Regions from separate parts of the Homo sapiens genome. Here region 2 is linked to region 1. Evidence: fine-mapped expression QTL. A gene starts in region 1. The other region holds a variant in brackets. All regions are shown on one strand. Distances are between the middles of the regions. Region 1 holds the start of USP50 (ubiquitin specific peptidase 50). Region 2 overlaps USP8 (ubiquitin specific peptidase 8).

Evidence for each region. PIP is the estimated chance that this variant, and not a neighbour inherited with it, causes the effect. A credible set is the group of variants that fine-mapping cannot tell apart.
Region 2: its variant is the best candidate, but not a certain one, in a credible set for the expression of USP50 in subcutaneous fat (GTEx, PIP 0.83).

Annotation. Positions count from the first base shown.
Region 1 is chr15:50,544,544-50,548,955 of GRCh38, forward strand. It overlaps USP50 (ubiquitin specific peptidase 50), which reads right to left and starts at 2,123. Exons shown (of 7, transcript NM_203494.5): 1 at 1,930-2,123; 2 at 44-238. The coding sequence starts at 1,982.
Region 2 is chr15:50,494,217-50,498,628 of GRCh38, forward strand. USP8 (ubiquitin specific peptidase 8) reads left to right here. Exons shown (of 20, transcript NM_005154.5): 16 at 1-64; 17 at 1,632-1,868; 18 at 2,873-3,015; 19 at 4,380-4,412. It also overlaps a transcript of USP50 not described here. Among named protein-coding and RNA genes, the nearest start is that of USP50, 50 kb to the right of the region's middle. The variant T/G (reference allele first, on the strand shown) is at 2,288.

The DNA.
Region 1 (4,412 bases):
GTGGGGGTGGGGGCTGGGCTGCAGGGAATGCAAATGGTCTTACTTTTGCAGAGCGGTGATATACTTCCCGGTGAGAAAGTATTCCACCAGCGGCAAGATGCTGCAGAGACACTGTGAGATGGCATTCACGCAGCATGTGTTGCCCAAGTTCCACAAGCCAGTGACACCCTGAAAATGGGGCTGGTTCCCATCAGCCTCCTTAACTGGAAGGGTATCATAGTAATCTGTGCACTCTGCACTGTGTTGGTGCCACATGGGAAGAAAGGGTTTTGAGAGAACAAAATATGTACAAATGACAATAAGCTTCTCTTAATATTATGAAATAAAGAAGAGTTCTTAATAAGACTTCCTCCAAACACATTCCCTACCAAGGACAGGAAGTATTGGAACTTGGAGTCTAAAATTGTATTATGGCAGAGCATAGTGGCTCACACCTGTAATCCCAGCCCTTTGGGAGGCCGAGGTGGGAGGATTGCTTGAGGCCAGGAGTTTGAGACCAGCCAGGGTAACATAGTGAGATCTTGTCTCTATTACATAAATAAATTAAATTAAAAACAAAATTACATAACTTAGACCAGAACTGTGAACAAGTACCTGAAGCCAAATAAGACAGATAAAAATTTCCTTCTAAAACTAAAGCAAGACAACTGACAACTTGCTGGGCAAGTAATTAAATTATTATTATTATTATTAATAGTTAATAAAACAATAGCTATCAGGTAGTGAGCCTGGCACTATTTAAGTACTTAACATGCATTTTCCCATTAAATCTTTCAACAATTGTGTAAGGCAGGAACGATTATTTTTACATCCCATTTTACAGATGAGATGTCAGGTTTAAATGATGTAGTCATTTACTCATGGGGTGTGTGGTGGTATGTAAAAAAAGGAATATCCACCTATCTGTTTACCTCCCTCCCTCTCTCCCAACATACCTATCCATTAAGATATTTGGATTTACATATATTAAGATTGTCTATATATATTAAGATTGTCTCTATATATGTGATATATATGTATATATTTGTATATATATGTATGTATGGCATATATATTGAAGGCATAATATATGCACATTAAGAGCATGAATATATATATCTTAAGAGCACACATATGTGTATATGTGTATGTATATAGCTATATACATATAAACACACACACACACATATACACGGAGAGGAGAAAGAGCACAGACTTTGTAAAAATATAGATCTTAGTTTAAATCCCAACTATGCCGTTTATTAATTATAGGATCTGGGATTCTATGTCCGTTTCTCATCTATAAAATAGGAATAATATCATCTGCCTGATAGGATGGTTGTGAGGATTATGCAGGTATCATGCAAGCTACTTGACACAGGTTCGTCTAAATGACAACTGAAAAATTTTTTTAAGTGATTGATCTAGGATGTCCTTCCCAGTAAGCTACAGGATTAGAGTGTTCATGTGAATTGCCCAGACCTGCCTGCACAGAGAGAACACTGAGGGTTCCAAACGGGACCTCCTCTCCCTGCACAGAGCTTCCTCTTACAATTTTTTGTATTGTGCCAGGCAGCCTGGTATCTATGTCCTCTCGGATTTTTCTTTCCATATATTGTATCTAAAGTTGGGGCTCCATGAGACAGTGACCTTACCTCATACATACTTTTAAGTACAGTTATGCCAGTTTGAAAAGTGTTCACTGTTATAAGCATGGTCATTTTCACTTTTACTCACTGATACCACAGGAGGTCCTAGACTGTCACCCTTTAGGAAGGACATGTATTTATTGCCAAGATATTAGGTACAATCTTCCTTCCTTTCCGGGGACCTTCCATGGGTCACACCTGGGAGAACCCTCCTGAATGCAGTGTGTGTCCCCTGACTCCTCTGAGCTTGACTTTCCCACCACTGGGCTAATCTAGAAAGCTGTAGTAGATCAAGGCTCACAGGACGTGGTAGATATCGAAGTCATCTGCAGGGAGAGACGGCTGAGAAGTCATTTTAATGGAACCACGTTGGACTTTTGCTTCTATTCAGGAGCTACATCTATTCCTTTCAACTTCATTTCTCTGAGCCTGTTAACGCTGGCTTTTTGTTTTAAACAATTGATATGCTCCTCTCTCTTCCAGTAGCTGCGAACTGATTTTCACCTGTATCAGGCACCACTCCAACTTGGATTTTCCGTACATCATAATCCTTTCCATTCACCTTCAAGATTCTATCATGTTGCCATGAGACACTGTTACTGGGTTGTCTGAAATGTTTTAGAAAGATTAGGCTCCAGAGAATGAACTACACATATAACCTCTCTTCCTTCTTCCATCACTCAGTTTCTCTTGTGTATATATATATTACACATACACACACACACACTTAACATGTGCACAAAAATTTACCGCCACTGAGTTAGTGGACACTACGGCAACCCTGCCTGCTCTGGGCACTCATTCCCCCTTCCCAGCGACTACACCACACCTAGGAGCCCTGAGGGAATTTCCTCACCCCGGGGAGCGAGGATTTCCACTTCTATTCAGGAGCTAGATCTATCCGGACTGAATACCGGATCAGAAAAAAAAAATTGCCATAAAAGAACATTATGGGAACGATTGATGAAATTTGAATATGGATAATATGCAGATAGTTTTTTCTATTAATGTTGAATCTTCTGAATTTGATAAGATTGTACTGTGTTTATGCAAGGGGATGCCCTTGTTCTTAGAAAATACACACTGAAGTTTTTCGGGGCACAGGGGCATGATATATGCAACCTATTTTCAAACGGTTCAGGAAGCACACAGGGACAGGAGGACAGGAAGGAAGGGGACTGATAAAGCACATACTATAAAGCCAGTGCACCCACACGCCAGCAGTTGGTGATTCCGAGTGAAGGCCCACTAAAGAGCACTATTCTTGCAACTCTTCTGCAAGTTTAAAAAATTAAAAAGAGGCCGGGCGCATCGGCTCACGCCTGTAATCCCAGCACTTTGGGAGGCTGAGGCGGGAGGATCACGAGGTCAGGAGACAGAGACCATCCTGGCTAACACGGTGAAACCCCATCTCTACTAAAAATACAATTAACTGGGCGTGGTGGCGGGCGCCTGTAGTCCCAGCTACTCGGGAAACTGAGGCAGAAGAATGACGTGAACCCGGGAGGCGGAGCTTGCCGTGAGCCGAGATCGCGCCACTGCACTCCAGCCTGGGCAACAAAGCGAAGACTCGGTCTCAAAAAAAGAAAAAAAAAATTAAAAAGAAAGAATATATTACACATATTTTTTGCTAAAATGGATTTCTCTCCAGATATATGACTGGTAAGTCAAAAAAAGCAAGGTGTTGAGGAATCCATAGTATGCACCCCAACTTATGTCTAAATGGTTAAAAAAAACCCACATATATGCTCAGGCTACACGAAGATATTTAGAATATTCATTCTTTGACACCTGGATAAGGAATCCTGGCAAGTAGAGCTGTCCTCTCTTGCAGGTATTTGATATTTGCGATGTATTTACAGAGGTATCTCTCCAAGTCACCTCAGTGGTGGTTCTGCAGGACTTAAATCCTGTAAACTTGCTCTATTTGTCAGTGAGGCTCTCCCAAGTCCTTCATTTTCTCCTAATCAATAGGGTCTTTTAAAAGTTTCATTTTGTGTTTGATGCTGGTAGGTAAAAATACAATTATTTGTCATATGTTGGTTGTCTATCCAGGAACCTTTCTAACCTGACTTACTCTTTAATTTTTTAATTTTTATTTAAATAGAGACAGGGTCTCGCTATGTTGCCCAGGCTGGTCTCGAACTCATGGGCTCAAGCAATCCTCCCACCTCACCCTCCCAAAGTGCTAGGATTACAGATGTGAGCCCCTGAGTATGGCCTAACTTGACTTACTTAAGTCTAATTTTTACATAGGTTCTTTGGATTTTTTATAAACACATTCAAGTTGTCTGCAACAAAATCAGTTTAATTTTTTTCTGAGTCTTACTTCTTCTTTACTAGTGAGGACTGCCAGTAAAATAGTGAAAATAGTGAAAAATTGTGAACATAGTAAAATAGTGAATAGAAGTGGAGATAGCTAATTGCTTAACTCAGAGAGAAAGCTTTGGATAATTCACCATTAAGTATGATGTTTGCAGACATAGTATTGAAGAGTTGTAATCATGAATGGATAGTGAGTATGACCAGATTTCTCTGTATTTATTGAGGTAATCATGAGATTTTCTTTCTTATTCTGTTATTGTTGTTCATTATCAATGATGGTCACATATTAATCTTCTATTCCTCAGGTATATTTTGTTTGAGCTGTAGTTATTATTTTCGTGAATTGTTGGGTTCTAGTTGTTAATCTTTTTGTTCAAGGGTTTTGTATCTATGTTCATGAGTTAGATTATCTATGTGTTAATATTCTGTGCTCTATAACAAACTACTAAGCTTAGTTTA
Region 2 (4,412 bases), 50 kb before region 1:
TCAGCAAGATTCACAAGAATTGCTTCTGTTCCTAATGGATGGTCTCCATGAAGATCTAAATAAAGTAAGAAATTTGATTTTTCTAAGTTGCAGAGACTCTTTAGGGTTGCTCAGTAGCACTGTATTTTTATAGCAGTTTAAAATTCTAGTTGGTGATAGTTCAGTGCTTGTTTATTCAAATAGTGACTGTATAAGAGAATTATAAAACATCAGGTAAGTGTAATATTTGAAGCATATACAGTTGGTATTTACTAATTAACAAGCAGTATTGCTGAGAAATTTGCAAATGTTAAAATAGTTATTGGCGTTTGTGACCCACATGTATGTGAAAGTAAAATCATAAACAAATGATCTTATAAAAGATTATAGACAGTTTGAGCATTTTTATTGTATGTTATGTTTATATAATATGTATATGTTATTGTACATATCCTTATTCTTTTCTTTTTCCCAGTCCCTTGCTGAAAGTGGAACATGCCTTTATTCTTACACATCCTTCTAAAATAAGAATTACTTGGCTGGGCACAGTGGCTTATGCCTGTAATCCCAGTACTTTGGGAGGCCAAGGCTGGTGGATCACCTGAGGTCAGGAGTTTGAGCCCAGCCTGGCCAACATGGCAAAACCTCGTCTCTACTAAAAATACAAAAATTGGCTGGGTGTAGTGGCATGTGCCTGTAATCCCAGCTACTCAGGTGGCTGAAGCAGGAGAATCGCTTGAACCTGGGAGGCAGAAGTTGCAGTGAGCCGAGATTGCAGTGACCACTGCACTCCAGCCTGGGCGACAGAGTGAGACTCTTTCTAAAAAAAAAAAAAAAAAAAATTACTCCATGTAACCAAATGACTCATGTGACTAGTTATTATAAAGGCATGTATGTATACATAAATGACCACCCTCCATTTACATACTACAACTTCTTTTTAGCACTTTTTGTCTCACATATTTTGGGGTCACCATTCTTAACCACTGAACAGATATATATATATATACACACACACCTACACAAAAATATTTGTGTATATATATATACGTGTATATATACATACATATATACACATATATATACACATACATATATACATATATACGTGTATATATACATACATATATACACATATATATACACATACATATATACATATATAGAGAGAGAGAGGCTAGGGCAACAAAATTATATATGTCCAGTTGTAGCCCTAATTCCCAGCTATATGTGGGATATCTTTTCTAAAAACCAAACTTTTTAGCTTTTTCTTTTTTTAGTAGAGATTGGAGGGGGGGGTCTCACTATGTTGCACAAGTTGGTCTCGAACTCCTGGCCCCAAGCAGTCCTCCTGCCTTGGCTTCCCAGAATGCTGGGATTACAAGCATGAACCACCACATCTGGCCCTTTTCAGCTTTTTAAATAAAAATTTGGGAAATTTCAACAAGTCACATTCCTTCAATAAAGTGAGTGAGTTTTTTTTGGTATTTTTGGCTAGAATTATTTTTTGCCACACTCAGTGAGATCAGAACTCCTTTATGAGAACTACAGGTGTTTCTAAATCTGGCAAGTGTTTGTATTCACTTTTATTCTTTCAATTTAAATGTTTTCTTTGAGATATTAATATAGAGCTTAAATCATTTTATTTCCAGGCTGATAATCGGAAGAGATATAAAGAAGAAAATAATGATCATCTCGATGACTTTAAAGCTGCAGAACATGCCTGGCAGAAACACAAGCAGCTCAATGAGTCTATTATTGTTGCACTTTTTCAGGGTCAATTCAAATCTACAGTACAGTGCCTCACATGTCACAAAAAGTCTAGGACATTTGAGGCCTTCATGTATTTGTCTCTACCACTAGCATCCACAAGTAAATGTACATTACAGGTAAGTTTAAGAAGTAGAGAGAAAATGATTTATTGGATAAAAATGCTGTTTTTATGGATATAGAGATGTAAATTTCTGGTCTTTACCCTTACAAACATTTTATCAGTAAAACTCGGCCGGGCGCAGTGGCTCATACCTTGTACTCCCAGCACTTTGGGAGGCCGAGGTGGGCGGATCACGAGGTCAGGAGATCGAGACCATCCTGGATAACACGGTGAAACCCCATCTCTACTAAAAATACAAAAAATTAGCCGGGCGTGGTGGTGGGCACCTGTAGTCCCCGCTACTCAGGAGGCTGAGGCAGGAGAATGGCGTGAACCCTGGAGGCGGAGTTTACAGTGAGCTGAGATCTCGCCACTGCACTCCAGCCTAGGGGACAGAACAAGACTCCGTCTTAAAAAAAAAAAAAAAAAAAACCT[T/G]TTATCAGTAAAACTCAATATAAATTCTGTTTTATAATTAGGCCTATGTAGATTAGAAAGAATTAGAAATTTCTTTTTTAAAGATACCTTTATTAAATATTCTTTCAGGATTTCAGGATTGTTAGTATGTTTTTAAAAAGTTTTATAAGTTAATTTGGAAAGTTGTCTGTTGACTAACTTAGGCCTACTTTTCATAAGCATTTGCTTTACATGGGGATATCAAATAAATATCCTGTTTTCCATGTATCAACAATGTTTCTTATATAAAAGCTTGTTGATACCTTTAGTCTTAAAGTACCTCCAGAATGTCATTTCCTCCAACAGGGTTTCTCTGATTGACCAGGTTAGGGGCTTTCCTGTGTCCTGTCACAACACACTGTAGGTAGCACTCACCACACTCTGTGCTGTCATTGTTCACTTGTCTATGCTTCTCACTAGATCACAAGCTTTGGGAAGGCAGGAACTCTTTTGTGTAGATTGCTGTTGAATCACTGGTGCCTGCAGAGTGACTAACTAAATAGGTGCTCTCTGACATTATTGAAGAATCGAATTAACGAGTATCTGCTACTTGTTTTTTTCTGCCAGGATTGCCTTAGATTATTTTCCAAAGAAGAAAAACTCACAGATAACAACAGATTTTACTGCAGTCATTGCAGAGCTCGACGGGATTCTCTAAAAAAGATAGAAATCTGGAAGTTACCACCTGTGCTTTTAGTGCATCTGAAACGGTAAAGGGGAAAGTTTGTCCTCCTGTTCAGTGAAATTAAATGAGGGAATTTTAAGTTCTGTGTAATTTATACTTGTTGTACTGCCTGCCATGGGCACATAACAAAGGGCGATTATCTGGTTACAGTAGATCTAGGGAAATAAAGCAGAAATGAGACTGTTAGTTCACCTCAGTGTTTTCAGTACCACAGCAAAATGACAATACCACTATTTCATGTAATTCCTTATAATTTTAAATAATTACAAAGCATCAAGTGAAAATGTATAAAAATATTACAGTATAATTCAAACAAATTAGCACATGAAATGTAACATTCAAACAGCAGACTAAAGCATAACAGACTTAGTTATGTGTTAAATAAAATTTATAATTTTTAAAGTATTTTAATGATAAAATATGTTAACGATACCATTAAGTGCAGAAATAATTTCATCCAGATTTTTCCAATTGATGGAAAAGATCTAGTCCTATAATAGAAGGAATAATGACAAGAGTTATAAAACACGAACCAGATCTTTTGCTGATTCTTTGGTCTTCACATAATCACATAATCCATGTAACTCAAGAACTTTGAGTTGATTATTTGAAAAACTTTTTAAAGGAAGTTGCACTTTTTTATTGAGAGCTGTAATTTTTGTGTCAAAAAAGCATTTCTGTTAAAAATGTTTTATCTTGTATTGAGATTCTTAGTTCCATATATTAATTTCCAAATTTACATGTTCAGATTTCTCTTGTGTAAATTTTTCTAACAAAAGCTAGTTTTTTCCATTGTCCTAGTTGAGGATTCTGGAAGTATAAACATTCTATAAGTGATTACACATTTGCTAAAATTTTTAATGCTGAATATTTTCAAAATTATGAAATAACCATATTACACCAACCAAGATATCATTGTTTTGATGTTTAAAGGAGCAGAATATGCCAGAATAATGGAATGAATGACATTATTTTAGTCAGTAGTCTCCTACTCTCAATTTCTGGCTCTAGTTTTCTCTGAAGTACAAGCTTGACTCGAGAGCAGCTGTCATTCTTTCTTTTGTGGTGGTCAGCATTATAAACATGTGGGTCTTACCTTCCTAGAAGACTCATGTAGCAGTTGTAGCTGGACCAGAGTATAGTCCTACCTCTACCATTCTGGCTGTTTGACCTTAGGCACATCATTAAATATCCATATGCCTCAGTTTTCTTGTTTGTAAAATGGAAATGAAGCCAAATGTCTTTAACAGGTTCCTCTACTACTAAAATTCCAAGTCTTTGTATTTGAAATGGATTTTACAGTCCTGGCTAAAAATCTAGATGTTAATGAATGAGGATTCATCCTGGTATCTTCCTCTGTCAGTGTAATTGTAATGTTTTGTTCTGCAGTTTTTCCTACGATGGCAGGTGGAAACAAAAATT